4 linked regions of the Homo sapiens genome follow. Each later gene encodes a partner of the first gene's protein in a complex. Each region holds a gene or a part of one and is shown on either strand. Other genes may lie near its edges. The genes, in order: GTF2F2, GTF2H5, GTF2A1 and POLR2B.

Evidence for each region.
Region 2: GTF2F2 (region 1) and GTF2H5 share a complex: the UniProt entries of both Homo sapiens proteins name them as parts of the TBP-based Pol II pre-initiation complex.
Region 3: GTF2F2 (region 1) and GTF2A1 share a complex: the UniProt entries of both Homo sapiens proteins name them as parts of the TBP-based Pol II pre-initiation complex.
Region 4: GTF2F2 (region 1) and POLR2B share a complex: the UniProt entries of both Homo sapiens proteins name them as parts of the TBP-based Pol II pre-initiation complex.

The regions. Positions count from the first base shown.
Region 1 is NC_000013.11:45,263,167-45,270,596, forward strand, and holds part of GTF2F2 (general transcription factor IIF subunit 2), read left to right. Parts: intron 1-4,066; coding exon 4,067-4,210; intron 4,211-7,430. UniProt on the Homo sapiens protein: TFIIF is a general transcription initiation factor that binds to RNA polymerase II and helps to recruit it to the initiation complex in collaboration with TFIIB.
Region 2 is NC_000006.12:158,170,952-158,178,381, reverse strand, and holds part of GTF2H5 (general transcription factor IIH subunit 5), read right to left. Parts: intron 1-7,430. UniProt on the Homo sapiens protein: Component of the general transcription and DNA repair factor IIH (TFIIH) core complex, which is involved in general and transcription-coupled nucleotide excision repair (NER) of damaged DNA and, when complexed to CAK, in RNA transcription by RNA polymerase II.
Region 3 is NC_000014.9:81,196,875-81,204,304, reverse strand, and holds part of GTF2A1 (transcription initiation factor IIA subunit 1), read left to right. Parts: intron 1-200; coding exon 201-405; intron 406-1,470; exon of another isoform or gene 1,471-1,610; intron 1,611-2,646; coding exon 2,647-2,711; intron 2,712-6,820; coding exon 6,821-6,896; intron 6,897-7,430. UniProt on the Homo sapiens protein: TFIIA is a component of the transcription machinery of RNA polymerase II and plays an important role in transcriptional activation. TFIIA in a complex with TBP mediates transcriptional activity.
Region 4 is NC_000004.12:56,974,135-56,982,174, forward strand, and holds the start of POLR2B (DNA-directed RNA polymerase II subunit RPB2), read left to right. Parts: upstream 1-4,761; 5' UTR 4,762-4,851; coding exon 4,852-4,870; intron 4,871-8,040. Other genes in the region: NOA1 (nitric oxide-associated protein 1), read right to left, coding at 2,308-3,451. UniProt on the Homo sapiens protein: Catalytic core component of RNA polymerase II (Pol II), a DNA-dependent RNA polymerase which synthesizes mRNA precursors and many functional non-coding RNAs using the four ribonucleoside triphosphates as substrates.

The sequences.
Region 1 (7,430 bases):
AGTGAGGAATGTTTCTGTTTTGTTCTTGCTATCGTTATTTTGTATGTCTGGGTTTTCAGACTAAATTTTTTTTTTTTTTGAGACGGAGTCTCACTCTGTCACCCAGGCTAGAGTGCAGTGGCGCGATCTCGGCTCACTGCAAGCTCCGCCTCCCAAGGTTCACACCATTCTCCTGCCTCAGCCTCCCGAGTAGCTGAGACTTCAGGCGCCCGCCACCATGCCCGGCTAATTTTTTGTATTTTTAGTAGAGACAGGGTTTCACCATGTTAGCCAGGATGGTCTTGATCTCCTGACCTCGTGATCTGCCCACCTCGGCCTCCCAAAGTGCTGGGATTACAGGCGTGAGCCACCGCACCTGGCTTACAGACAACATTTTTAAGAGTTTTTGTTTACTACAGATTATGTAGTCAGGATACCTTGAAACTATGCTTCCAGGTGGCTATCCTCAAGCTTTGGGCTCGAATAAACTATATAGTTAATTTTATTTTCTGAATCTCATTACTTAAGATTGACATATGCCTGTCAAGGACAATAACTACCATGGTTTCCAGTGCTTTGATGAAACCAAACGCCATGCATCTGAGGTTTTATGTTGTTGGAGCATTCATTGCATCCCTGGGGGTTGCAGCTCTCTGTAAGTTTGCTGTGCTGAAGCAAGAAATAAGGCATATGCAGATTTCTTCAGAAATTAGGATTCCATGAAAGATATTGAGGAGATGAGGAAGGCTGGTATCTTTCAGAGTGCAAAGTGGTTTGGGAATATAAAGAATTTGCTTGGATTGAATCACATGGAAGTTTGTCACTGACTTGTGTTCGTGAACTATGAAACACGAATATCTAGGCTGAGAAAGAGTTCGTCTTGATAAGTAAACAATTAACAAATATTTCGGACAGGAAGAAAAAAAACAGTTTTTGTTCACTAGGCAAATGTAGAGGTAGGCTGCAGTGCCCCCAGGAACTAAACCAGTGATATACATGTTAACACAGAAAGATAAGCATATATTTTTAGTCTGTTTTTCTAATTTTAAAGAGAAAGCACCAACATTAACTTCAATTTGAGATTGAAGCATGTAAACCAAGATTTTTTTTTTATTTTTTATTTTTTATTTTTATTTTTTTATTTTTTTATTTTTTTGAGACAGAGTCACTCTGTTGCTGAGAGTGGAGTGTAGTGGCACGATCTTGGCTCACTGCAACCTCTGTCTCCTGGCTTCAAGCGATTCTGCTGCCTCAGCCTCCCTAGTAGCTGGAGATACAGGCGTGTGCCACCACGCCCAGCTAATTTTTTTGTATTTTTAGCAGAGACTTGGCCGTGCTGGTCTTGAACTCCTGACCTCAAATGATCCGCCCACTTTGTCCTCCCAAAGTTGCTGGGATTACAGGCGTGAGCCACTGCGCCTGGCCCCATGATTTTTGAAAAATCTGGGTAGAATTCGGTAATTTTCTTACTACTCATTAATGTTACTAATTACAACTTAATCCGACCCTTACTCTTATCCCTAGTGTTGATTTTAAAGTTCTTTTCTAATTTATTAATTTTTACCTTTGATTCAGGTCCTCTTGCATCTGACATGTGACTCTGGGTTGGGACAACTTGATAACAACACTTAAGTTTTCTCTCCACAGCCAACTAGAATGTGCGCCCTCTGTAAAGTAGGTTATCTTACTTTACCAGTGGGCTTATTTGAAAACATTTTTCATGTTAAACTTCCTAGCTTCTCCAATCATTTTACACAAGAAACAGCCTACTGAAGGTGGAAACTGAGTATACCATCACTTCTCTGCTATTTCCTGAATTTAACTTGAGACTGAGGCCAGGCGTGGTGGCTCACGCCTGTAATCCTAGCACTTTGGGAGGCCGAGGCGGGCGGATCACGAGGTTAGGAGTTCGAGACCAGCCTGGCCAACATAGTGAAACCCTGTCTCTACTAAAAATACAAAAATTAGCTGGGCATGGTGGTGCGCACCTGTAATCCCAGCTACTCGGGAGGCTGAGGCAGGAAAATCACTTGAACCCAGGAGGTGGAGGTTGTGGTGAGCCGAGATTGCACCACTGCACTCCAGCCTGGGCAATAGAGTGAGACACCATTTCAAAAAAAAAAAAAAATTGAGACTGGCTGGATTTCAGTCTTCCCTAACAATACAATCTGTGTCATTCATTTGCATTTTTTTTAAGCATGGTGATCTTGTCCTAGGTAGCTCTTTGTCCATTACTGCATTTAAAATGCTCAAGGCCCTCCCCTCTCTAATCATTTTAATCCATTTAAAGCCGTTTTAGAAAGAAAAAGCTGTCTTACTCTCCCCATATCTTAGCGCAATGCCTAGCATATAGTCATGCTTAATCTGCTGAAGCTCAGTGGAGTTTGAGTTTTACTCCCAGTTCGTACATATCAAAAAATGAAGATGATTGAGTCCTTTCCCTTTGTCTCACTCCCAACTTTATTTAATTGAAAAGTAGATACTCAAGGTTTTCAGTTACCTTTTACCACTAATTTGACAGTCTCTCATAAGACATATTTTTAGTTTTAATATCAATAAATCAATAGAAACTAAATTTTATCCTTTTATAACAAATCTTTATTGTTAAAATAGAGTAAGCTAACTACCTGAGGCTATTTGTGGAATAATTTATTTGTAAGTTTTTAAATGTATCCCATTGTTTTCGAAGCTAGTCCCCAGATTATAATTATTCCAGCTGACCCACAGGACATTCTTCTCTGGCAGTTTCCACCCAACCTACTGATGCTTTCTTCACCAGGTTGGCCCCTTCAACAAGTTTCTGATGGTTTATACAAGTGAAGTGTTCCTAAAAAGAAACAAACAAATATCTCAATTAACTAAGTAATAGAACAGAACTTGCATATTTTAAGTAAAAAGGGTGATGTTTTACAATTGAACAGTCCCAGGATGGTAACAGTAGGAGGGAACTTCTTCATTGTGTTAGTGCCACTGCTTTTTAAGCTGGCATGCATGGAGGTACACAAAACTGCAGAATAAACATAACACATGGTCCTGAAGTGTCATTTTTATTTGGATAGTAGATACTGTATTTTTTACTTCATGTTAAAAAATAAAGATGTATTATACAGGTGAATTTAGAGGTCACATGAAGTTTTAAATGGGAATTTCAGAAAAATGGTTTGCTTGTGTCTGAGATGATAAGTATATAATTACCCCTTTCTCTTGTTAAACTAACTTTTATTGTATGGGAAGAGAAACAGGTTCAAGGAGGTTGCACAGGGTCAGGATGAGAAAAGGTCCATGTCCTTTCCTTTTTACCAATGCTTCCCAAACTTTTCACTCCGTAAAGAACCCGTTTTATAATCTGCCTGCCTCCAAGAACCCCACATTTGAAAGATGTTACCTATGAAACTGCATCTGTTAGATAAACTGTTTTACTGTTAATCAAAAACAAAAGCACTACACGTTAGAGTTTTCGATCAACACAAGATAACCAGTTAACCGCACTGAATTGATACAGTTTTGGCAAAAGGCCTTTTTGGGGGGAAATGTACACATTATGCATTACATAAAGCTTTAGGGGATAATGAAAGTGACTGGAATTATTACTAACTTAGAGCCTTAAAGATACGGGGACCCCAGGAGTAACAGGTCCCAGGTTCTGAACTACTGTTCAGAGGCCTGCTGCCTCGAAACTTACGATCTAGTCGTTAATGGATGACTCAAAAGAGAATGCCTGGGCAAGCACGGTGGCTCACACCTGTTATCCCGACACTTTGGGAGGCTGAGGCAGGTGGATCACCTGAGGTCAGGAGTTCCAGGCCAGCCTGGCCAACATGGTGAAACCCCGTCTCTACCAAAAATACAAAAAATTAGCCAGGCGTAGTGGCGGGCACCTGTAATCCCAGCTACTCGGGAGGCTGAGGCAGGAGAATCACTTGAACCCAGGAGGTGGGGGTTGCAGTGAGCTGAGATCATGCCACTGCACTCCAGCCTGGGCAACAAGAGCAAAACTCTGTCTCAAAAAAAAAAAAAAGAGAATGCCTGTGTTTTAGAGTGAGCATGTTGAATTGATGCTTTTATTTCCTTTGCTGTTTGCATATAGATCGAATATGAAAGGAAAAAGAAAGAAGACGGAAAGCGAGCTCGAGCTGATAAACAACATGTTTTAGACATGCTATTTTCAGCCTTTGAGAAACATCAATACTATAATCTTAAGGACTTGGTGGACATCACAAAGCAACCTGTGGTATGTATATGTTCATACTGATCCTTTGAATATGCCCTCCTTCATTAACACGACATTACTGAAAGTGTGTCATACATGATTTAGTTCACATTTACCTATGCTAATGACTAATTTTATGACAACACTCAGAAAAGATGTCTTAATGCAGCCATTTTTGGTAACATCAGCTTTTATTTTACATTTTAGTACTCTTAATAATTATTTATGAAGAAAAGAAATTATCCTCATGTTCATTTATTCTTGACATTAAGCCTGAAATCTGTTGATACCATTTCTGGTCTTTATTTTGTTTCCCTATCTTCCTCTGAGAAAGTTTAACTCCTTCCCTTTTTTTGGAAAACATGCCTCATAGAAAAATCGCATTCTTTAAAGAATTATACTGTTTTGTCATTGTGGGAGGGTTTATCCCTGTCTTGTGAATTGTTTTCTGTGGATTTTTTTTTTTTTTTTTTTTAATTAGAATCTGTGTAGGTCCTTTTAAACCTGAACTGAACTGCACTTTCAAATTATGCTTGCAGAGATTGTGATTAGGTTGGCCTGTTCCCCATTTTTAAGGACAAATTTAACAAATTCGTATTTTAGAAAGTTTATGTTTGTTTTATAGTCATTTTTATCTCTTCTCTAGGCTTTTGTGCATTTACTAGTAATTTGCATTAATAATCCATTTAAAATGATGATAACAATAAGAAATTCAAATTCTTTTTCTAGTCTTTGAGTCACATTGTTTTCCATTTAACTTTCTCCACCACATGTCACCAAAGTATCAGACTGAGTATTTACTTATAGGTTTAAGAAAATTGAATGGAAACCCTTTTATCTCATTTCCTTTACCATTTTGTCTACTCTGCCGGTATACTCAAGAATCTGTTGATTCTTGCTGCTCCATTTATTGGATTCAGAATATGTAACAATAACCAATTTTAAAAAACATCTTAACATAACCAAATAACCTATTTGTGAAAGGACTTGATTTTTTTTATTTATACAAAGCTTTAGGAAATGATTTATGAAATTTTAATGTTCATTATACAGTTTCTCCTGCAGATATTTCTTTACTATTATACATCAACCCTTGCCTTTTGTTAAGAAATTAATTTGAATTCCAAAAGATTTACTTTTTAATAAGAAGAAAGTGCTCATGGTGGAGTATTATCAATTCATCCCAATGACTTCACTCCCTTTGGCATCAAAGCCTTAGAAACAGCATTCTAAGCTAGATTAAAAATTTTTTTTGAAATAGAATAAATAACTCATTAGCTAAGCTGTGTTTCTTCTGGTTTTAATGAAATTTATCTTTGTATTTATATATATAAATATATCTGTATGAAAAGACCCTTCCAGAAACTCTGAAAACAGACGAGATTCTCATGGAATTAAACACAAAAAATTAGATATGGAAAATAATCACTTGTAGAGGGGCATTCAGATGATACTAGGGAAAGCAGTTTCTTTGCCTTCACATGGGATATAAGGTTTATTCATTTTGCATCAAAGAACAAGTATTACTAGTGTGTCTTTTGGTTTTGGTTCTTAAGATATTTTTTATATGGTAGTACTCAGTGAATCTCTTACAACAGAGCTTCTTAATTCCTAACCAGTGGATGGACTTAAGGGGATCCATTAACTTCCTGAAAATCTGCAAAAATGTATGAATTGTTCTGGGGAACATATCATCCATAGTTTGTATCAGATTCTCATAGAAGCCGCTGATCTCAAAACTAACTTTTTAAATAATAGTTTTATTATTTAGAGACTAAATTGCCTCAATAAGCATAAGATTCCTGAAGGCAGAGTTGTATGCTATTCCTATCCCTAAATATTCATATACCCCATAGTGTAAAAGATGGTAAAAATTCAGCAAATATCTCATGAATTGATTTGAAAAAAGAAAATCCTCAGTCTCCAAGGGCCACCATATTTTCTTCAGATGGATTTTGGCAGGCCTCTCACGTCATTTATAGTGAGGTTGGGGCAAAGAGCCAGTGCCAAGAAAGTGTGGAATGCCTTCCCCAGGCTGGGGGTAGGCCAGAGGTAGTTACCTCCTCCTAGAGGAGAGGGCAGGAAGTGGTCAGCATGGATTCCAGTCCATTGACTGGGAAAGAAAGTTGCCAAAGTCTAGCTCTCCCCCAAGTAGGCAACTATCCCCCTTTAAAAGGATTCGAGGACATAAGTGAATCTGTACTAATGGTCATCAGTACCCAAGAGACTTGAGGAATCTATTCTAGCATGAAGATCAATGGTCCAGGAAAGGGGGTGTTCTGGTATAATGGAAAGAACCTGGATTTGGAGTATGAGATCCTAGTTCAAGTCCCAGCTCTACCATTTAGCCAAATAGTCCTGGACAAGGTACTTAAATACATTTAATACATTACTTATATTTAGTTCACTTAACATATGTAATAATATAAAATTTACCAATATGTTCAAATTATAATTTATTTTGGGGGTGGGGTGTTTTGTTTGTTTGTTTTTGAGATGGAGTTTTGCTCTTGTTGCCCAGGCTGGAGTGCAATGGCACAATCTCTGCTCACTGCAACCTCCACCTCCCGAGTTCAAGCGATTCTCCTGCCTCAGCCTCCTGAGTAGCTGGGATTATAGGCGCCCACCACCACACCTGGCTAATTTTTGGATTTTTAGTAGAGATGAGGTTTCACCATGTTGACAAGGCTGGTCTTGAACTCCTGACCTCAGGTGATCTACATGCCTCAGCCTCCCGAAGTGCTGAGATTACACGTGAGCTACCGTTCCTGGCCAAAACCTTCATTTCTATAAGTAAAATTATTGGCTAGAGAAACTTTGCTTAGGGCCCGTCTTTTTCTCTTGTTTGCCAGTATGTGACTTACATAAGCAACTAGAAAGAGTGAAAGTTACTCATCAAGGAGGCCAAGCTTTGGTAACTGATATAAAGTCGGGGACATAGTATCCATTTAAAGATATATTATCTTAGTCTGTTTTTTGTTACTTATAACAGAATACCTGAAGCTGGGCAATTTTTAAAGCAAAATAATTTGTTTCTTAAAATTTTGGAGGCTGAGAAGTCCAGGATCAAAGGGCCACGTCTGGTAAGAGGCTTTTTACATCGCTTAGTGAGGAGGCTGAGCGTGCTAGCTCAGGTCTCTCTTCCTCTCCCTCTTTTTATAAAGCCACCAATTTCACTCCCATGATAACCCATTAATCTATGAATGGGCAGAACCCCCATGACCTAGTCACCTCTCAAAGG
Region 2 (7,430 bases), on another chromosome or scaffold:
GGGTTCATGCCATTCTCCTGCCTCAGCCTCCTGAGTAGCCACCATGCCTGGCTAATTTTAATAGAGACGGGGTTTCACCGTGTTAGACAGGATGGTCTCGATCTCCTGACCTCGTGATCCGCCTGTCTTGGCCTCCCAAAGTGCTGGGATTACAGGGATTACAGGTGTGAGCCACCGCGCCCAGCCAGGAATGCTTTTACAATGTTGGTGGGAGTTCAACCATTGTGGAAGACAGCGTGGCGATTCCTTAAGGATCTAGAACTAGAAATACCATTTGACCCAGCAATCCCATTACTGGGCATATTCCCAGAGGATTATAAATCATTCTATGATAAAGACACATGCACATGTATGTTTATTGTGGCACTATTCACAATAGCTAAGACTTGGAACCAACCCAAATGTCCATCAATGATAGACTGGATTAAGAAAATGTGGCACATATACACCACGGAATACTATGCAGTCATAAAAAAGGATGAGTTCATGTCCTTTGTAGGGACATGGATGAAGCTGGAAACCATCATTTTCAGCAAACTATCACAAGATCAGAAAACCAAACACTGCATGTTCTCGCTCATAAGTGGGAGGTGAACAATGAGAACACATGGACACAGGGAGGCGATCATCACACACCAGGGCCTGTGGGGTGTTGGGGTCTAGGGGAGGGATAACATTAGGAGAAATACCTAGTGTAGGTGACGGGTAGATGGGTGCAGCAAACTACCATGGCACATGTATACCTATGTAACAAAACTGTACGTTCTGCACATTTAACCCAGAACTTAAAGTATGATAACCACTGCAACCACAGATGCTGACCACATACTGTACCCTTCATGTGCTTTACCCAGCGCAGCCTGCATACCTTATCCCTGATGTCAATTCCCATGCTTTGCCTAATCAAAAAGTCCCCATCAGCTTTTTTGGGGGTCAGCCGCAGAGTTCTTACTACTGTACTGTCTCCCTTGCATTTGTGGATAAACCCTGAAATAAAAGCCTCATCTGGGAAAACTGTATAGCTCTGTGTTAATTTTTATTACATAGGGAGCCAAAGAGCCTGTGATCTGTAACAGCAATGTTAGTACCATAGCTACACTGCAAAGTTGATGGACTACAGAATATTTCTAAAACATCTTGCTCATAGTAGGTACTCAAATGAGCAATTAAAATGCCAAGACCATGTGAGAGGATATAGGCAGAGAGGTTTAAATTACAATTAGTTCTATCCCTATCAAATGATTTACTGTTGGGAACAGGCACCCCAAAATCTGGCCATAAACTGGCCCCAAAACTAGCCATAAACAAAATCTCTGAAGCACTGTGACATGTTCATGATGGCCATGACACCCACGCTGGAAGGCTGTGGGTTTACTGGAATGAGGGCAAGGAACACCTGGCCCACCCAGGGCGGAAAACCGCTTAAAGGCTTTCTTAAACCACAAACAATAGCGTGAGTGATCTGTGCCTTAAGGACATGCTCCTGCTGCAGATAACTAGCCCAACCCATCCCTTTATTTTGGCCCATCCCTTTGTTTCCCATAAGGAATACTTTTAGGTAATCTATAATCTATAATCTATAGAAACAATGCTCATCCCTGGCTTGCTGTTAACAAATAAGTGGGTAAATCTCTGTTCGGGGCTCTCGGCTCTGAAGGCTGTGAGACCCCTGATTTCTCACCCCACACCTCTATATTTCTGTGTGTCTGTCTTTAATTCCTCTAGCGCTGCTGGGTTAGGGTCTCCCAGACCGAGCTGGTCTCGGCAATTTACTATTTCAATTACAAAACCATTAACCTATGAATATATATGGTATAATTCTAAGACATACGTATATCCTTTTAAAAAGCAAACATAGGCTGGGCGCAATGGCTCACATCTGTAATCCCAGCATTTTGGGAGGCCGAGGTGGGTGGATCACGAGGTCAGGAGTTCAAGACCAGCCTGGCCAAGATAGTGAAACCCCATCTCTACTAAAACTTCAAAAATTAGCCAGGCATGGTGGCAGGCACCTGTAATCCCAACTACTTGGGAGGCTGAAGCAGGAGAATCGTTTGAACCCAGGTGGCAGAGGCTGCAGTGAGCCAAGATTGTGCCACTGCACTCCAGGCTGGGTGACAGTGAGACTCCGTTTCAAAAAAAAAACAAAAGCAAACACAATATTATACTTAGTTTTATAATGGAGAGATAGTATATGTAACGTTTAGTAGCCTGGGCTCTGGAGCCAGAATACCGGGATTTAAAATCCCAGTTTAACAATAGCTATGTAACTGAGCAATTGATTAATTGATACAAAGTATCTCACTTTGTACATCCATAAATGGAGATGACAGCACTTACCTCAAAGGGCTGTTGTGAAAACTAAATTAATATTAGCAAGTGCTTAGTATAGCACATGTCACATGGAAAACAGCGTTAGTACAGGAATCCAGGTGTTTTCACTTAACATCATTGTACAGTGTCATTTCCCTGAATCACTTAAAATGTCTGCAAATATTTTAACAGCTATATTATTTGATTAAAATATGCCACAATCAACAAATTTCTTTTTCTAGCACATTAAATACATACATTTTTATTGGCAGTTCTGATCATTTCCTAAAATTTTTTTTTTTTTTGAAATGGGGTCTCACTGTGTTGCTCAGGCTGGAGTGCAGTGGCATGATCTTGGCTCACTGCAACCTCTGCCTCTTGGGTTCAAGTGATTCTCCTGCCTCAGCCTCCCCAGTAGCTGGGATTACAGGCGTCCACCACCATGCCCAGCTAATTTTTGTATTTTTAGTAGAGACAGGGTTTTACCATGTTGGCCAGGCTGGTCTCAAACTCCTGACCTCAAGCCATCCACCCGCCTCAGCCTCCTGAAGTGTTGGGATTACAGGCGTGAGCCACTGCACCCAGCGATTTCCTAAAGATAAACTTATAGAAACGGAGTTATTGTGTTAAAGGATATAAAAGCACAAAACACCCATCACAAGTTGCTTACAGTTGTTTCTTGGGATTACACTTCCATCAGCAGCTTGGTGGGGTGCTTGCTTTTTAAAAGCTATGACTGGAAGACAACAGCCTCCTCATTTAAAAGCTATTTTGATATACAACATGCTAAAAGGAGGCCTAGTATACACATCTGTTTCAAACTAAAACTTTAATTTATCAAGAATCCCATCTTATTCACTGTGAATCTCACTGTAGGAATAGAGAGGCTCTAAAGGAACATTAATAAATTTGGGATTTTGGCTGAGATCACAAACCTGGACTCAATTCTGTTAACAAAATTTATTCAGTACACAAATATTTACTAAGCCATATCTATATATGTGTATGTGTGTGTGTGTGTATACACACACACACACACACACACACACACACACACATCTCAGGCACAGTTTTGGGTGCCTGGAAAACTTCAGCGAACATGGCCCTACTAAGAGGCAAAGGCTGAGAAAAGATTTATACATGCTGAGAAAAAAACAGAACAATGGTTAGACTGGTTTTGCCATACTTCTTACTTCGCTTCTCATAAACGATATAGCTTTAGAAGCCAAACTCATAAGGATAAGTGTAGTTTAATAATACATATTTCTCCAGATTCTTTGCTATTGTGATGTAAACTGGTTGGAATTTGCACCTTGGCAACAAATCTTTGCTGAAGCACTTGCCAAACCAATTGTGGCAACTGTTATACCAGAGGTCTGCTCCAGCATCTGGAACTGGACACAGACATACTGTGGTCATGTGTTGCTTGCTTTGGTAATTGCTTGGTGGCTAGATTTGGGAGAATACTTAGTGTGAGCCTGGCAATTGATGGTGGATCCCAACAAAGAGGAAATTTTCACCAACCTTTCAGTTTTGACATAAAAGTGCAAATTTATAAACATAAAACTTCTTTTATAGCCTTCAATTTTAGTATTTGATAAGCCCTTGGGAGTTAAGATTATATCCAAGTGCCCTGATTTTTCAATTCTCTGAAGGTGAGAATAAATGGCCATCATCATAATTTGGTTTACTTCTTTAGCAAATCTCTGCAGACTCAAAATCAGTTAAACTTAACTGATAGAAATGGAGTTTAAATATGGCAGTTAAGTGAAGCCAATCTAAGATATATGTGGATCAGCACTATATAAGCTATTACACATCAGTTTCTATTAATACAATGATGGGACTGGAATTTGGAGAGATTCCTGGGACAGTGGAAGCAGCTGTGAGATAGGAATTCAGCAGGACTAGTTTCCAAGACAAGAGAGACAGTAAACAACAGGTCAGAAGACCCCACCGATAAGCGAGGATACAGTAAAGAAACCAGCCAGAACCAAGATGGCAACAAAAGCAACCTTCACCACTATCATACACAAATCATAATGCATGCGCACGCTAAAAACCACCCCCACCAGCACCACGACAGTTTACAAATGCCATGGCAATATCTAGAAGTTACCCCGTATGGTCTGGACTGGGGACTCCTGGTTCCACAGAATCCCTGCCTCTTTTCCAGAAAACTCACGAATAATCCACCCCTTGTTTAACATATACTCAAGAAATGGCCATAAAATAGCCAGTTAGCAGGCCCGCCTGCTTCCCACCCTCCCCACTCCACTCTGCCTATGGGGTAGCCACCCTTTTATTCCCTCATTTTTAATAAACTTGCTTTCACTTTACTCTGTGGCTCATTCTTGAATTCTTTCCTGCATGAAGCCAAAAACCAACTTGGCTTCCAGGGCTGAGCCTCAATTTTGGTATTCACCTGCAACAGCTGTAGAAGATCCTTGAGTGGTCTGCCTGTAAACTCCAGACCTATCAAATTCCATACTCCAATACACCTAAATGCTTCATACAATCCATGGATATTATGAAGTAATAAACAGACTTATACTGATAATCATATTATTAACAGGCTTCTCCTTGGCATCAAATATGGACATGAGGGAAACTGAAGGACTTTTCCAGTTACCATCCTAACATCTGCATCTAACTGTGAAAGGGAATCCACTAGCACTGGCCATACCCTTTCCTTTGGGAATCTATGTTATTTCTTAGGCCCAAAATCTTTTTGGAAGACTTGTGTTTTTGGGAAGACAGAGTTACCCTTTTGAAAAATTGTGCAGACTACACTTTAGAATTCACTTCAAAGGGAAAAATTAGTTTTGCAAGGATGGTACCTAACCTGCAAAATAAAATTTAATAGTCCTGGTGCAAAACACTTCTCCACAGGGAAACATTATTAAACTGAAGCTGATTAACAGTATTATTGCTTCTCAAAATTTAAATGCATCTTAACAAGATTCTTTGTATGCACAATTCTGATTTAGTAGATTTAGGGTGAGGTCTGAGATTTTGCATTTCTAACAAGCTCCAGATGATGCTATTACTGCTAGTCTGGGGATTACCCTGAAGTGCAAGGTGATGGACAGTCATTAGAGAGACCAGGTAGAATTCAGAGGTTAGATACGGGACAGCAAACCGGGCACTGAGACTTCAGAGTCTCCCCAGAGTTTTGTTCTTTAAGATGCAATCCAGTCATCTTTTTTTTCAAATTAAAACGTAGGTTTAATGCAATTCCAACCAATATGCCAAAAGGATTATTTTGGAAACAGACTAAGTTATTTCAAGGTTATTCTAGAATAGGCAACAAGAAAGATGAATGTGGGAAGGGATGAAAGAGAATAGCAAGGGGAGTAAAATTATGTGATTAAGGAGGCATCAAGCATCATTAAGAAAGGAAATAATGGTGGAGAACTAGATATTTGGCAAAATGAACAGACAAAAACACCCAAAACAAAAAAGAAGCTAGGCTGGGTGCAGTGGCTCATGCCTGTAATCCCAGCACTTTGGGAGGCCGGGGCAGGTGGATCATGAGGTCAAGAGATCGAGACCAGCCTGGCCAACATGGTGAAACCCCATTTCTACTAAAAATACAAAAATAAAATTAGCCGGGTGTGGTGGTGTGTGCCTGTAATCCCAGCTACTCGGGCAGCTGAGGCAGCAGTATCGCTTGAATCCAGGAGCCAAGATCGCGCCACTGCACTCCAACCTGGCAACAGAGCAAGACTCCGTGTCAAAAAAAAAAAAAAGAAGCTAATTTAGATCCTTATCTAATAATATGTCTCTTCTCTGAATAAATTCTAGATGAATGAATCTAACACACCAAGAAAAACACAAAATCCCCACAAGAGAGAAGTGAATATTTAACAAACCTATGCCACTCCTCCCAATAAATTCTAGATGAATGAATCTAAAACACCAAGAAAAACACAAAACCCTCAGAAGAGAGAAGTGAATATTTAACAAACCCAGGGGTGAAGATTAAACTTAGAATTGGAAGAAACGAGGGAAAAAAAGTGATAGCTGACACTCTGTGTATGTGTATCCTCTGTATTTAAAAATAACACTAAAGGCCAACGAGGAAAATGTTTATGTTATGTCAAATTAATAGGAAAATAAGTACATCAAACCTAGTGCCTTCAAAAGACAACAGAACAGTGTGTTTAGAACTTCTGGGGTCCAGATCCCACCCCCTTTGCTTTTCCAAGTGAATACCTCTCCCCCGCAGTGGTTTACTCTCATCAACGTACATTCTAGTCTTTCACATTAAAATAAAAATAGCAAGAACCTGAGCCCCTCACCATGTCCTTCGTCAGCTACCAATCCAGTTCTCTATGAGATTGCTCATGATCACAGTAAAACTTCTCCGAAGTCTCCATCTCCACCTCCTCACCTCCCTTTCCTTTTCCACAGTACTTCAATCTGGCATCTCCCCACCACTCCATTCAAATGGCTCTCATCAAAACTCCAGTCTTCATCTCATGCCAGTTCTCAATCAGTGCCCAACACAGCCGCTCATCCCTACAAAACACTTCCTCCTTTGGCTTTCCTCCCTCCAGCCTCACTGGCTATTTTCTTCTTAGTTGCCTTTGTTGGTGTCTCCTGTATCAAAACTCCAAATCTGCACTATGCATAAGGTAGCCCACTAGTCAGGTCACTACAGAGTCCTTGAAACACGGTTAGTCTGTGAGATGTGCTGTAAAATTAAAATATCCATTCGACTTTGAAGATGAAGATTTTTTTGAAGACTTAGTATGTGTTCAAAGCATAGTGTTTTGCATAGACAGGGTTAAACAAAAGATATTAACTTCACCTGTTTCATTTTACGTTACTTTTAAGATGGCTAGAAAAAATGTAAGACTATATCTGTGGCTTGCATTAGATTTCTATTGGCTAGTGCTGTTCTAAATGTTGGCAGTGTCCTAGGGTTTGGTCTTGCTCCTCCTTAGCCTTGCCATCACAGTAAACAGTATCATTATCCATGCACTGGCTCATATTAGAGGCACCGAAAGTAGACAGTAGTATTTTCAGACAATGGGAGTGTCCACAGAGCAGGGTTCCCGGGGTTCCTGGACACTGGATTGCTTTGAGGAACTCAACTCTGCCCATTTATG
Region 3 (7,430 bases), on another chromosome or scaffold:
GTGGCAAAAATGAGGTTTGATACTTTAAAATTTTGTTTTTGTTATTGTTTCACTTGGGTTAGAATTACAGATTTGTTGTATTTCTGTGTCTGTATCAGTTTTTAAAATGGAATAACTTTATAAAGAGATTAATAAAACTGTTGTATTCATCTGTCCAGAGTTATTTTTCACTTAGAAATCTTTAATGTTCTTTGCCTTAGTTATGGGAAAACAAACTAATGCAGTCCAGGGCAGTAGATGGATTTCATTCAGAAGAGCAGCAGCTTCTACTGCAAGTTCAACAGCAGCATCAACCCCAGCAGCAGCAGCATCACCACCATCACCATCATCAGCAAGCTCAGCCTCAGCAGACAGTACCTCAGCAAGCGCAGACCCAGCAGGTTCTTATTCCTGCATCACAGCAAGGTGAGACTGGACTTGTTTTCCTACTTATGACTTGGAAATTAAGTTTGTCATTATGAAAGAAGAGAAATATTCTGCATTTTTTGGATCTTGTCTTTTAAGGGGCACATGGAGAACCTAAAAATAAACAAAAACCCCTCTGTTGATTTCGGGCTTTTTCCCCCCTTTCTCTTGGCTGAGGGATGTGTATGTAAATGTATATAAATTTGTATACAATGTAGGTTGTATCTGTAGAGTAATGGTAGACAAGTAATTTACTAATTGAAAGCCTAAGATATTCAGAGAAGTTATATTAATATTTTGTTTTGAAAAGGCTATATAGTGATGGATTTCCTAAGTTAAATCTAAAAGGTTTATTTACTAAGGGATTTATTATTTTATATGGTACAATAGTTATTTGCTTTCTCTATAAAACATGTTCTTTCAAAGACATGTTTCAGATTAGTTTTTAAAATATATCTTACATTCTGGAGTTTTTTGTATACTTTGGCAATCTGAAAATTCAGCTCCATAGGAATTTATGTAAGCCTAAATGGACTGAATTAGATTTATTTTAAGTTAAGAGTGGATATATAACATATCTTAATTTATATTACTTGGATTAAAGCTAAGAAAAAGCAAATATTCATAGACTGTGTCCATAGTGCCTTGTACTCTGCAAGTCATTTTATAGATACTGTTTCACTGGCATCTTATAAGGGCTTTGTAAAATAGCCCTTGGCTCAGTTTTACAGCTGAGGAAAATCTGAGCCCAGAAAAGGCTAAGAAACTTGATCTGTATTTTCTCTCATGACAAACATCTATTCAGTTATAAAACTTCCTGAGCATTCTAATTCAGTGCATCTGCTTTTATGGGAGAGGACACTAGAAGTAAATGAAAAGTTCATTTTAATATCATTTAGTTACTCATTTGCCTCATTTGACAGTATATATATGTGTCTTAAAATTGGTAATGACACACAGTAGAAGAGTATTTGGGTTATTTTACTGTTGATATCTAGTGGTACTTTTCATACCTAATTTTAATGTGTACTTTGTATCAAATAATTTTATCCTTTTATTCTTTTTTGATGACTGTTCTTCCTGTTGCCTTCAGACCTGGCATTAGGATTTTAGGTCATCATAAATTAAAATTTGATTTTCTTCACTCAGAGAATATTAGGATAATGGAGTTATCTGTTCTCTGAAATTTGCGGAATCAAACATGTAATTCCTTTTACGCTTAAGTAACATTGCCATTATTTCTGATTTGTATTTTTTCCGACTTTTGCCGGTTTACCACTCTTCAGGCAACCTGGTGGTCCCCTGCTTTCAGGAGGCCACCATATTGATGCCGAACTTATTTGGACACCTGATCAGCATAGCACATACAGCCCAGAACTCCTGGGCTCAAGTGATCCTCCCACCTTAGCCTCCTGAGTTGCTGGGACTACAGGCATGCATCCCTGCACCCGGCTGATTTGTATTTTTTAAACAGCTGATGAAAGTGGCATGAGTCTGTCAGCTGTCATATTTGGAAGAAAAGGACTATGTAGATTTCAAAAACTAGTCACAACTTTTTGAGCTTACTTTTATTGGATTAGTAACTCATTGTAACAGTGGTATCATTGTATCAGTAAAACAGTTAACCTTGAGTTAAGACAAAATTATGTTTGAAAATGTCCAGTTTACTTAAGAATGCATAGAACTATTTATGTTTAGATGTTAAGGTAACTCACTACTTCATGTTCCTAAATTCCCTTGCATCCTTAGGAATTGCCACTTAATTTTTTTTTTTTGATATGGAACCTTGTCACCCATGTTAGAGTGCAGTGGCGTGATCTCAGCTTACTGCAACCTCCAGTTCCGGAGTTCAAGTGATTCTCATGCCTCAGCCTGACACCCAACTAATTTTTTTGTATTTTTAGTAGAGATGGGGTTTCACCATATTGGCCAGTCTGGTCTTGAACTCCTGACCTCAAGTGATCCACCCGCCTTGGCCTCCCAAAGTGCTGTAATTACAGGTGTGAGCCACCACGCCTGGGCTTAAATATTTTTTAATGTTTTCTAGTATAGGGTGGGTATATCACAGCTGTTATTTGCCATATACATTTATAATGTCCTGAGATGAAATGATTGAAAGCATTTGAGTGCAGAAAACATGAAAAACATGAAAAAAGTTTTCATCATTGTATGTAAAGTGTTCTTGTGATTATAAAATAGCCTCATGGTTCCTTGTTTGCATGTTCGCTTGTTTTTTTGTAGCCACAGCACCACAAGTTATTGTTCCAGATTCTAAGTTGATACAGCATATGAATGCATCAAACATGGTAAGACTCAGAATGTAGCAGTTTGATTGGCTGTACTTAATTCTAACCCACATTGTAATTATGCCTATATATGTCCTATATTAACTACTTGAAGTTTATTGAAGACTCAAGCAAAACAGCTGTTTTAGTTTCCTGAATATTGGATCTGAAGTTTAGCTTGGTACCTAGACATTAAGGTTCATAAAATTACGGAATTGTTTAAGAATACCAAAAGAATGGTGCTTTGTGAGAGTTATTCCATTCCCTACTATTTCCGAAAAAGTTTTAGGGTACCTACCAAGCTTATAATGCCAAGTATGGTTCTGTTTCAGGAGACCTAGTAATTGCAAGAGGGTGGGAAGGCTAAGAATTGTGAACTTTTAAAAAATGAAGATAGACTGGATAGTTCAGTATAACTATTTTTAAAATCAAGCATTTAAAAATATTACTCTGACTTAACCATAGTATAGTCTAATAAGTCATTATAGTGTGTAAATTACCACAGAATACATTTTAACCAGCTGAGTTATATTAGAATTTTTATATTTCTGAGGACTATCCACTAAACTTTACAAGTCCTCACTCATATTTTCAAATTACATTTCAGACATATAATATTTCTCAACAAATGTAGTATAGGTTAACTGTAAACTTGAAAGAACCTCTTCAGATCCTTAGAAAATCTTTACCTATATCCTTGAAGTTGTTTTTTGTTTTTTTTTTTTTTTTGGATAAAACATTAAAATATAGTCAGATTAGAGTAGTTCAATACTTCCTTATAAATGGTTTTTCTTTATTCTGTTTAAAATATACAGACTGTTGATTTCATTGAGTGGTGACTCAGCTCTTACATTTCATTCTTCAGCCAAAACTTTTATTTAAAGGTGAAAGAATCAATATTTGTAAAAAGATCTTTTAACCTATGTAACTAGTTAGTACTAGAAATGAGATTTTTTTTTCCCTCCGTTCAAGTTTTTTTTTTTTTTTGAAGATGGAGTCTTACCCTGTCACCCAGGCTGGAGTGCAGTGGTGTGATCTTGGCTAACTGCAACCTCCGCCTCCTAGGTTCAAGTGATCCTCCCACCTCAGCCTCCTGAGTAGCTGGGAGTACAGGTGTATGTCACCACACCTGGCTAATTTTTTTGTACTTTTAGTAGAGACAGGGTTTCACCATGTTGGCCAGGCTGGTCGCCCAACTCCTCACCTCAAGCGATCTGCCCACCTCGGCCTCCTGAAGTGTTAGGATTACAGGTGTGAGCCACCACGCCCAGCCTCAAGTTTTTTTTTAAACCAAAAAGCAGTGTATGAAAAGATGAGTTCTACTTTGTGAGTGATACTGAATCACAAAGTTCATTTGTGGTTTATAAGCCAGATAAGAAGGGCTTACCCACTAGACAGATGACTTCCTCCTACACATTACCAGCCTCACAAATTCATACTGTGGCAGAATTGAAAGTTTCTACATGATAGTAGAAATTGCAGTTTTTAAATTCACAAATATCGAGGATCTCTGTTTGTACTTGTAGTTGCAGTTTCTAGAATCTTTTCGTTTACATGAAAATAAAAAATTTCATGCCTGTTATTTCTCACAAGATTTTTTATTGGAAAAAACTCCATTTTAAGTCTAAGGCCCCAATTTTTTTTAACCTCCACCCTTAAAAAAAAAAAAGTCTCACTATATGTTGCTTATTGTAGTTGATGTTATTAAGACTATATCCTAGGGAATAACTCACATTATTTTAAAACAAATTTTGGCAGAGTCTCTTGTGGTAGGCCCCTCTAAAAGAATTTTAAATGTTGTGGAAGAGAATTTTGAATTAGTAAGTTATTTCTGGGATAAAAATTAGTGGTCCATCTCTTACTTACTGGTTAAGTCTCCTTTATTCTAAAGAGCATATGTATTTAAACAAATCATAGGTCAGTTACTCAGGAAAATTGATTTAACATTTCTGTATATTTTACATTTTACTTTGTTGTTTTTAGTCAGTGTTTCCTTCATGTATTTCTGAACATAATCAGTATAGGCTCTGTACCAATAAAAGTGTTTTAGGTTTTTGTGGGTTTGCATTATTCTGATTTAGAAATAGCAAAAATATATTTGTTCTTTCTAATGGCTCTGTTTGCATTAGAAATGAACTAATCATAAAAACGTGAGATAATATAGTAGAAGGCTATTTCAGGGAACTTCTAGAAAACCATTGTTTTCGGTTCTTTTTTATGAAATGATTGGTCTAATGCATTATTTGTGTTTGGGCTGTTTTGTGGAATACAAGAAGAAATTTTAATAGTTATTAAGTATAAGGTGGTTAGTGTATGGTACATGACTCAGCAAATATATGTTATGCAGCTTGAATTTGTGGAGGGTGTGCAGGTAGTTATTGGGTCGTGTATTCTATATGGAAACTACTATGTCAGTTTGCTGGTAGAGGGAGAATTGCTGTCTTTCAAAATATGAATTATAGGCACTTAATATTTCTAAATATTTTTGTTTTTTTCTTTTTAAATATTTCTTAATAGTATGTGGTGGTTAATATTTTCCTTAAACTTAGATAACCTTTAATTTGCTTATATAGCCAAGTTTTATTTTAAATTGGGTAATTGAGTATCCAACTTAAATACGAATCACCCGGGTGGGCTATAGTTAAATTCTGGAGACACAGTGGGAATTTCAGGCCCAAGATGTAGAAATTACTTAGGTTTGTCAAGTGGCAACAAGTGTATTTTCTTGGAAAGCTATGTACCTAGAGCCCAGACTAGACAGTAGTTGAACTATTAACTCAGTTTAATAATTTTCTAAGTTTGTTGACTTCTCTGACACTAGCATTTCCAAAGCAGTTATATTTATTTTTTTAAGCTTTTTCAGATATGGGTAGTTCTAAAACTGTATAGGTTAGATTGAATGTATGAATGGTTGGTAGCTAAAGAAGATTGAAAAGAGAGGGAAAAAACTACCAAAATGTGTAGCTATAGCGGGATACAGGAAAATACTTAAAGTGCAGAATAAAAAACCAGAGAATGGCATAATTCTTTGCGGGAGGACAGGAGGAGAAAACTCTCCAGAACTCTCCAGGAAGTCAAGAATTTGTCCTGGATTTAAAGAAATTCATAATATAATCCCGTCTATATCTTTATAACTTAAGTGTCACATACTAACTTGATTTCAAAATGTTGAAACTAAAGTTTGTGACTATTGCCCAGGCTGGAGTGCAGTGGCACAATCTCGGCTCACTGCAACCTCCACCTTCAGGTTCAAGCCATCCTCCCACCTCACCCTCCCAAGTAGCTGGGACTACAGGTGTGCACCACCCTGCTCAGCTAATTTTTGTATTTTTTGTAGAAATGGGATTTCACCATATTGCCCAGGCTGGTCTCAAACTCCTGAGCTCAAGCGATCTGCCCACGTGGGCCTCCTAAAGTGCTGGGATTACAGGCGTGAGCCAGTCTGCCTGGTGTGACTTTTCTTAAGATTTACAGATTTTTTGTATTAATCTGTTATTAATGCATGTTTCACCTAGAATATAATGCCAGTATGTCCCTTTTTTCTTTGCTAATATGACATCTTAGAAGAATTGTCAGCTGTACTCCCAGTGAAGTCTTCTGATACAGTGTTCTTTATAGATATCTGTTGATTTTAGTAGAAATTTTAAAAGTTAAGAATTCTAAAAAGTAGATAATTATACTTTTATCTCAAGGAAATGGGGATAAGGAAACAGTGGGAAAGGAAGCAATAATGAAATAGCCATTTCATATATTGTACAGCATTGTTAATGTGGGTATTGTCTAAAAATGTGTAGGTTAGATTGAGTATAGGAAGGCTTGGTACCTTAAAGAAGATTGATGGGACAAGAAGGAAAAAAAAACTGCAGTACCTGTGAGATTTACTTAGAGCACCTTCTCTAGGGGAAAAAACCCAATTATATTGTTGTATTTAACTGCTTAAAATAATTTAGTAGGTTGGAGGCTAGGTTGGTCAGTCTTGTACCATTTTATAAAATGGGATTTAGCCTTACTAGATTTTTTAAATTTTGGTATATTCTAAACAAAAAGTTTCATACACTATTAAAATATGCTAGAGAGAAACAGTATTATACATGTATGTGGTTTTGATATTTTTTCTTTGTTTTTTTCAGAGTGCTGCTGCTACAGCTGCTACCTTAGCACTCCCTGCAGGTGTGACTCCTGTTCAGCAGATATTAACAAATTCAGGTAATTAGGAATGATGGAACCATTTTAAAATGTAATTCAGAAAATTGTACTATCTAGCCCTTAGGTTTTGTCTTCTTTGAAAGACAGAAAATACTAATATTTCTTTTACCATTTGGTTTAGGTTATTAAAATAACTTTATTTGAGGGCTGTAACACATATAACTGTAATCGTTGTTGAGGATACAGTAAAGAAGATGAAAATTGTACTTGAACCTTTGATCTGTGCATGATAACCCTATTATTGAAGTATGATTATATAAAAATGCTTACTTAGTTTTTTACTGAACACATTTAACATGCCAAGTGAGTATTAAACTTCTTTGAACTTGTGATATCAAAGTAATTCCTAGAGCATATTAAGAGCAAATTTATTGTATGCTATTATTATACATAGTATCTCTTCATTGACAAAAGACCAATGTCTAGCTCATGTGTTTTGGCATATTGGTGCTTGAAAAATTTATTTACATGGATTTTAAGTGTTCCCTATAATCTTGATTATATAGTTATTATTTATTTTCTATTCTGTGTATG
Region 4 (8,040 bases), on another chromosome or scaffold:
CCACTTTACAAATGAGGAAATAGGTTAAGAGATTAGTTCACAGGGGAAACCAGAATTGGAATCCAAAATCTGTAGGCCCGATTTCTTTCCATTTTTATCACATTACCATTCAGTATAAAAGTAATTTTTCTGTAAAATTCAAAGTGCAAGACAGAGAAGAGCAGCTTACTAAATGAAACTTTGGTTTCAAGGGAACAAATGGGGCAGTCAGTTTTGTCAACTTAAATTTAAGCCTGGCTGAGCGTAGTGGCTCACACCTGTAATCCCAGCACTTTGGGAGGCCCAGGCGGGTGGATCACTTGAGGTCAGGAGTTCGAGACCTGCCTTGCCAACATGGTGAAACCCTGTCTCTACTAAAAATACAAAAAATTAGCTGGGTGTGGTGGTGCACACTTGTAGTCCAGCTATTTGGGAGGCTGAGGCAGGAGAATCGCTTGAACCTGGGAGGTGAGGGTTGCCGTGAGGCGAGATCGCACCACTGCACTCCAACCTGGGCGACAGAGTGAGCCTCTGTCTCAAAAAAAAAAAAAAAAATTTAAACCATAGAAGGACTCATTTTCTAATTACAGAAGTTTGTTTCTTTCTTTCTTGTTTTTGAGACAGCGTCTTGCTCTGTTGCCCAGGCTGGAGTGCAGTGGTGTGATCTTGGCTCAGCCTCCCAGGTTCAAGCGATTCTTCACCCTCAGCCTCCTGAGTAGCTGGGATTACAGGCACCAGCTACCAAACCCGGCTAAGTTTTGTATTTTTAGTAGACATGGGAGTTTCACCATGTGGGCAGGTCTGGTCTGGAACTCCTGACCTCAGGTGATCTGCCCACCTTGGCCTCCCAAAGTGCTCGGATTACAGGTGTGACCCACTGCACCTGGCCACAGAAGTTTCTTAAAGTCACAAGACTGATACTTCTGTTTTTTTGGGTCTCTGTTGTCCAGGCTGGATTGGAGTGCAGTGGCCCAATTAGGGCTCACTGCCACCTCAACCTTCCAGGCTCAGGTGATTCTCCCACCTCAACCTCCTGAGTAGCTGGGACTACAGGCACGCACCACCAGCCTGACTAATTTTTGTATCTTTAGTAGAGACAGGGTTTCACCATGTTGCCCAGGCTGGTCCTGAACTCCTGAGCTCAAGCAATCTGCCCACCTTGGCCTCCCAAAGTGCTAGAATTACAGATGTGAGCCACTGAGCCCGGCAAAGCCACACATCAAATTGCACTAATGGGCTGGGAGCAGTGGCTCACACCTGTAATCCCAGCACTTTGGGAGGACGAGGTGGGCAGATCACGTGAGGTCAGGAGTTGGAGACCTGCCTGGCCAACATGTTGAAACCCTGTCTCTACCAAAGATACAAAAATTAGCTGGGCATGGTGGTGCTTGCCTGTAATCCCAGCGCTTTGGGAGGCCAAGAGTTCCAGACCAGCCTGGCCAACAAGGTGAAACCCCATCTCTACTGAAAATACAAAAATTAGGCCAAGCGCGGTGGCTCACACCTGTAATCCCAGCACTTTGGGATGCTGAGGCGGGCGGATCACGAGGTCAGGGGTTTGAGACCAGCCTGACCAACATAGTGAAACCCCGTCTCTACTAAAAATATAAAAATTAGCTGGGCATAGTGGCGTGCGCCTGTAATCCCAGCTACTCAGGAGGCTGAGGGAGGAGAATCACTGGAACCCGGGAGGCGGAGGTTACAGTGAGCCACTGCACTCTAGCCTGGGCAACAGAGCAAGACAAGACTCCGTCTCAAAAAACAAAACAAAACAAACACAAAAATTAGCTTGGTGTGGTGGCGCATGCCTCGAATCCCAGCTACTAGGGAGGCTGAGGCAGGAGAATCACTTGAACCCGGGAGGCGGAGGTTGCAGTGAGCCGAGATCACGCCACTGCACTCCAGCCTGGGCGACAGAGTGAGACTCTGTCTCCAAAACAAAACAAACAAACAAAACACAAAGTTCATTAGGTTCAGACAGTAAAAAGGACGCACACTTTCTGGAACAATATACAAAGAAGTTACAAAGCAAATCTCCAGAACAGGAACTTTGCTTTGTTCCCTGGTCTATCTCCAGTGCTTAGTGACTGGGAACAGAGACGTGCTCCATAAACACTTCCATTGAAAATTACTACAACACATCCTCAATTTTCCCTAGCAGTAAGCTGACACAGAAGAGAGGTGTGACCAGAGTGGGGAGAGAATTTGTAAAGGGAAGGGTACAGGCAGCCCGCAGTGGACATTAAGGGAGGATGTACTCGGTGCCTCGGCCAGGACCAGACGTCCACCTTGCCAGGAAACGAAGAGGGCGAGCCTCCTAAAACTCACCTGGCCAAGGGGAGATGGTGGCTCTGTCGATGGCCTCGGAGCCCTTGGCAGTGCAGTAATCGGACTCCAGGAGCGTGTTAAAGAGAGTGGATTTGCCGGCGTTGGTGGCGCCCACTAAGTAGACGTCCCCACGGTAGCGCCAGGAGCGCTGAAGGGCAGAGATCAACTCTTCCACTCCATAGCCGGTCTTGGCGCTGATCAGCCGCACGTCCCTGACCACTGTGCGGGACCAGTTCGGCGGATTCGGATTCTCCCCGTCCTGTGGCTCGTCCTTGACGGGGCGCTGTGGCCCTTGGTGGCCAGGGGCCAGCAGGAGCCCGGCGCGGGCACAGTCCTCCCACAGTCGCTCCCGCAGCCTCTGCCGGTAGCCAGGAGCATCCTGGGGCAGGAGGTCCACTTTGTTTCCCAGCACGATCAGCTGCTTGGGGCCCACCAGCGCGGGCAAGTCGGGCAGCAGGGCGTCGGGCAGGTCCAGCAGGTCCACCATGTAGAGCACCAGGGAGGGGCCGGGCCGCCGCAACGCGGCGCTCACCAGCTCCAGGTACTGCTCGCGGCTCACCTGCAGGCGTAGAGCGCGCCGGTGGTGCGACAGCAGCCAGCAGCGCTGGCACACGGTCCGTGCCAGCCCGCCGTCTGCCTCCGCCGTGCGGAGGAACTTCTCTCGGGGCAGGTAGCCGGGCACTCCGGCGTCCTGGCAGTGCAGCTCTGCCCCACAGCCCGAGCAGTTCACGCCGCTGGGCGGCAATGCCGGGTCCGGGTGCCCCACGACCGGGTGCTCCCGGGACCTGGCCCGTAGGTTTTGCTGTCGCCGCTCCTCCCGCCGCTGCTGCCTCTGTCGCTCCTCCTCCTCCTGCTGTTGCTGGAGCTCCTGCAGCTGCTTTTCGCGGGTGGGTTGCGGCTCCGGATCCAGGATGTACTCCGGGAACAGAAAACGCTCCTGCATGTCACCACCTTCTCCAAAGCCCTCCGTGTCCACGGGGTCATAAGGAAGCTCGCGTCCCAGACTCGATGAGTGCTGGAAGGAGGAGGCGGCAGCGCACCTCCTCTCCAGGAGCGGCTCCCGGAGGCCATGGCGCGCTGCCGTGGGAGCGGATCCACGAAGGAAAAGGCTCAGCAGCCTGAACGGTAGGCGAGCGGGCAGCATGAGGAAGTAGCTCCAAAGGGGCGGAGCCACCAGCGCGCACGCGCACTAGGGTCCGAGGCGCGCATTTGACCCGAGACGAAAGCGCGTGGGTACTTGGGAGCTGTCCTGGTTGGTTTTGCGTCTAATCCCGTCAGTTCTCGCGATTTAAGCTCTGAGACTGAGAACCTACTTAAAGCTATGGCAAAGGCACTGGAGGATTGAGCTAGGTGGGCAGAAAAGAGCAGTGAGTGTTTTGGGTTTTTTCACTTTCAGGCTTAACGCCTCACTGCTAGCACAAGCCGCCCTTAATAAATCACACTTAAAAAGGAGCTTCCGGGGTCGGGCGCGGTGGCTCACGCCTGTAATCCCAGCAATTTGGGAGGCCGAGGCGGGCGGATCATGAGGTCAGGAGATCGAGACCATCCTGGCTTACACGGTGAAACCCCCATCTCTGCTAAAAATACAAAAAATTAGCCAGGCGTGGTGGCGGGCGCCTGTAGTCCCAGCTACTCGGGAGGCTGAGGCAGGAGAATGGCTTGAACGCGGGAGGCGGAGGTTGCAGTGAGCCGAGATCGCGCCACTGCACTCCAGCCTGGGCGACAGAGCGAGCCTGTCTCAAAAAAACAAAACAAAACAAAAACAGAAAGGAGCTTCCGGCCGGGCGCGTGGCTCACGCCTGTAATCCCAGCACTTTGGGAGGCCGAGGCGGGTGGATCACCTGAGGTCAGCAGTTCGAGACCAGCCTGGCCAACGTGGTGAAACCCCGTCTCTACTAAAAATACAAAAATTACCCGGGCGTGGTGACCCTTGCCTGTAATCCCAGCTATTTGGGAGGCCGAGGCAGGAGAATCGCTTGAACCCGGGAGACGGAGGTTGCAGTGAGCCGAGATCGCTCCACTGCACTCCAGCCTGGGCGACAGAGCGAGACTCCATTTCAAAAAATAATAAATAAATAAAAATAAAAAATAGCTTCGTGTTTTGGTCCTTATAAAGGCAAATAAATTGAGCATCCCAATGTTGCGGATTCACAGGACGAACACTTTTTAATAATAAGTATACCTGGTTTTGTTTTCAGGTGTCGTTATTTGTGCAACAACATTGAAAAACAAGCAGAAATAAAACATTGACGGAACGGATACGACCGCAGATTGCGGGAGCTGTCCTCTCAATCAGCCCGGCAGCGGCGGCCCACAATTTACGCGTGTGCAACCCTAACCCCGGCCCAAGCTTGACCTACAATTTGCGCAGGCGCAGATCCTAACTTTGGCGTCCCTGTGGGCGGCCTTTGGTGTGAGACGCGTGGTATTCTGGGAACGTCGGAGACGGAAGTTACTTCGTCTTTAGCTCCTGGCGCTGCTGGCTTCTGGGCGGTTTTTGTCTTTTGATTTCAAGAGTTAGGAGCTCGAGAACCGTTTGGCAATATGTACGACGCGGATGAGGGTAGGTGAACGCTCAAAACACACGCCGTGGCGGTCCATTTAAGCAGGAAAGCGTTGGGAACTGATTGGATTGAGGATTTGGGGCCTTCCCATGCGCCGGCTGCACAGTCCCCAGCCTTGTTCCCACACTTACCAGGCCGGGAACGAAACTGGGGTAGGGAGAGGCGGAGGGTGCAGGGAACATAGTGTTAATGTTCCAGGTTACGTTCACTGCTGCTCTCTGCACTTTCTCGTTCCGTTAGATCTGATCCTCGTTTCCTGTGGTGAAGTAGCGTGCAGAATCGTAAGATAAATTACGTTTTGAATTTGAAGCAAAGGGCACCCTTTAAAAATTTTCCTTAAAGCCACAGTCGACTTAACGAATAGCTCAATTGTTGAGTGTCAGCCTGTGTCAGGCAGTGTGGAAGGTCCTGGAAATATTCCGGGACAGAGAATATCGGGGGGTGGGGGTGGCGGGGGGGACTCGGTTTAGTCTGACATTTCTTCATACTGTTTGTAAGTCAAAGTAAATTGTCTTAAAGGATGACTTTTAACTTCCTCTTCTCACAATGTCACAGTTCTCAGATGATATGTATTCTGCTGCACTGGGCCAATGTATAATACCTGTTTGTTTGCGCATATGGAATTCTTAGTAGTGGCCGAGCGCGGTGGCTCCCGTCAGCACTTTGGGAGGCCGAGATGTGCAGATCGCTTGAGACCAACCTGACAAACATGGGGAAATCCTGTATCTACTAAAAATACAAAAATTAGCCTAGTGTGATGGCGTGCGCCTGTAATCCCAGCTACTCGGGAGGCTGAGGCCGGACGATCGCTTGAGCCCAGGAGGCGGAGTTTGCAGTGAGCTGAGATCGCACCACTACACCACAGCCTGAGTGACAGAGTTAGACTGTCTCAAAAAAAAAAAAAAAAAATTCTTAGTTGAGTCTAGTGTATTTTCGTAGCCGCCTTTTCCATTCTCCATATCTGCTAATTCAAACCTTATTTTCTTATAGCTCTCAATTCCTTGGCCACCCCCTACATCTCCTCTCTCTATTCCCTCAGGTACTTCTGATAAATCAGATGGAAAAAATTGAAGCAAAAGCTTAATTTTTTTTTTTTTTTTTTAAGAGATGGGGTCTGGCCATGTTGCCCAGGCTGGTCTCAAACTCCTGAGGTCAAACCATCTGCCTGTCTCGGCCTCCCAAAGTGCTGGGATTACAAGCATGAGCCAATGTGCCCAGCCAAAAGCTTAAACTTTTAAAGCTGTTTAAACTTCTGTCTCATTTATATCTTGTGTTGTAGAAATTTATTAGCATCATTATATTCCTTGTTCTTTTTTAACTACTATCTCAGTAGAAGAAAAATTCGAAAAAAAAGATTTTTAAAGCATAATTTTTGGCTGGGTAATATATTCTCATAGCTCACAAGCCAGAAAATTTAAAAATGTTAAAGTGGGGTGGCTGGTGCAGTGGCTCACGCCTGTTATCCCAGCATTTTGGGAGTCTGAGGCGGGTGGATTACTTGAGCTCAGGAGTTCGAGAGCAGCCTGGGCAACATGGGAGACCCCTCTCTATAAGAAATAGAAAAATTAGCTGGGCGTGGTCTTGCTCACCTATAGTCCCAGCTACTTGTGGGGCTGAGGCTGGAGGATCGCTTGAGCCTGGGAAGTTGACACTGCTATGAGCTGAGAACAAAGTGAGACCTTGTCTCAAAAAAAACAAGTTAAAGTGTCACGTCTCCTTCTTACCCACCATCTGCCCAGTTTGAACTCTCCACAGTGGGTAACTACAGTTATAACAGTTATAAGAGGTTCTTATCACTCCACAGTTTCTTTTTTTTTTTTTGATGGTCTTGCTCTGTTGCCCAGGCTTGAGTGTGGTGGCGCAATCTCGGCTCACTGTAACCTCCATCTCCCAGGTTCAAGCAGTTCTCCTGCCTCAGCCTCCCGAGTAGCTGAGATTACAGGCGTACACCACCGTGCCCAGCTAATTTTAGTATTTTTAGTAGAGATGGTTTCTCCACGTTGGCCAGGCTGATCTCAAACTCCTGACCTCAGGTGATTCACCTGCCTCGGCCTCCGAAAGTGCTGGGATTGCAGGTGTGAACCTCCAAGCCCAGCCTCCACAGTTTCCTTATGCATATTTAAGCAAATATAAATGGGATTTTCTCTTTTTTTAAAGACAGTAATATTCACACTTTTCTCCACTTTTAGATTTTGTTTAATGTGTCCAGGAGATTTTCGTATCAGTACACAGAAAGCATCGCGCCCCCCCTCCCGTGTCCCCACCCCCAGTTACTTAGTTTGTGTGGATGTACCATAACTTAAGTAGTCTCTTGATGGATATTCGGTTTATTTCTAGTCATTTTCGGGTTCAAACAGTGCTGTAAATGAATAATCTTGTACGTATAATTTGCCCAAGTATGTCTGTGGGATACATTTCTACATATAAAATTGTCAGGTCAAATGATATGCACGTTTAACATTTTGCTAGATGATGCCAAGTGACCACCATAGTGGTGATTGTACTAATTTTGCATTCTTATTAGCAATGTATAATGATCCTGTGGAAAAAGAGTTTATCAGGGTTGCTTTAGCAGTGAACCTACATTTTATTGCCCATGTCCTCTGAAATGTTTATTAGATAACGTCCTCATCAGTTTTCAGTCACTATGTGAAAATGTCAGATTTCTGTCATCCACATGGAAACAAGTTAAATTCTTTTCATTGTTACCTTTTTCTTCTAGTATTTTACCTTTCTTCTTTCACTCACAGCCAAACTTATAAAAATAATAAGCTGTCCTTGTTTCTAATTTTCATCTTTCATGTGCTTTTCAACTGATTACAATATGTTTCTACTCATGCTACTACATTAAGATAGCTCTAAGATTGACAGCGACTTCTCAATTGATAAATGAGATGGATATTTAAAACTTATCTAAACCCTGTGGTCTTCAAAACTGTTGATGACATCTTCCCGGAAACTCACTCAGCTTTCTAGCGACATCACTTTCACTTGATTTTTCTTATCTGACTTTTCTCATTTTCTTTCCTGTTCACATTCTCCTTGGGTGATCTCATCCATTTTCCATTGTTTCAGTTACCATCTGTATGCGGATAACTTCTGAATGTGTATACTTCTAGTTTAAAATCTGGGGTATCTAACTGCCACTAGCCAACTAGGATATCTCCCA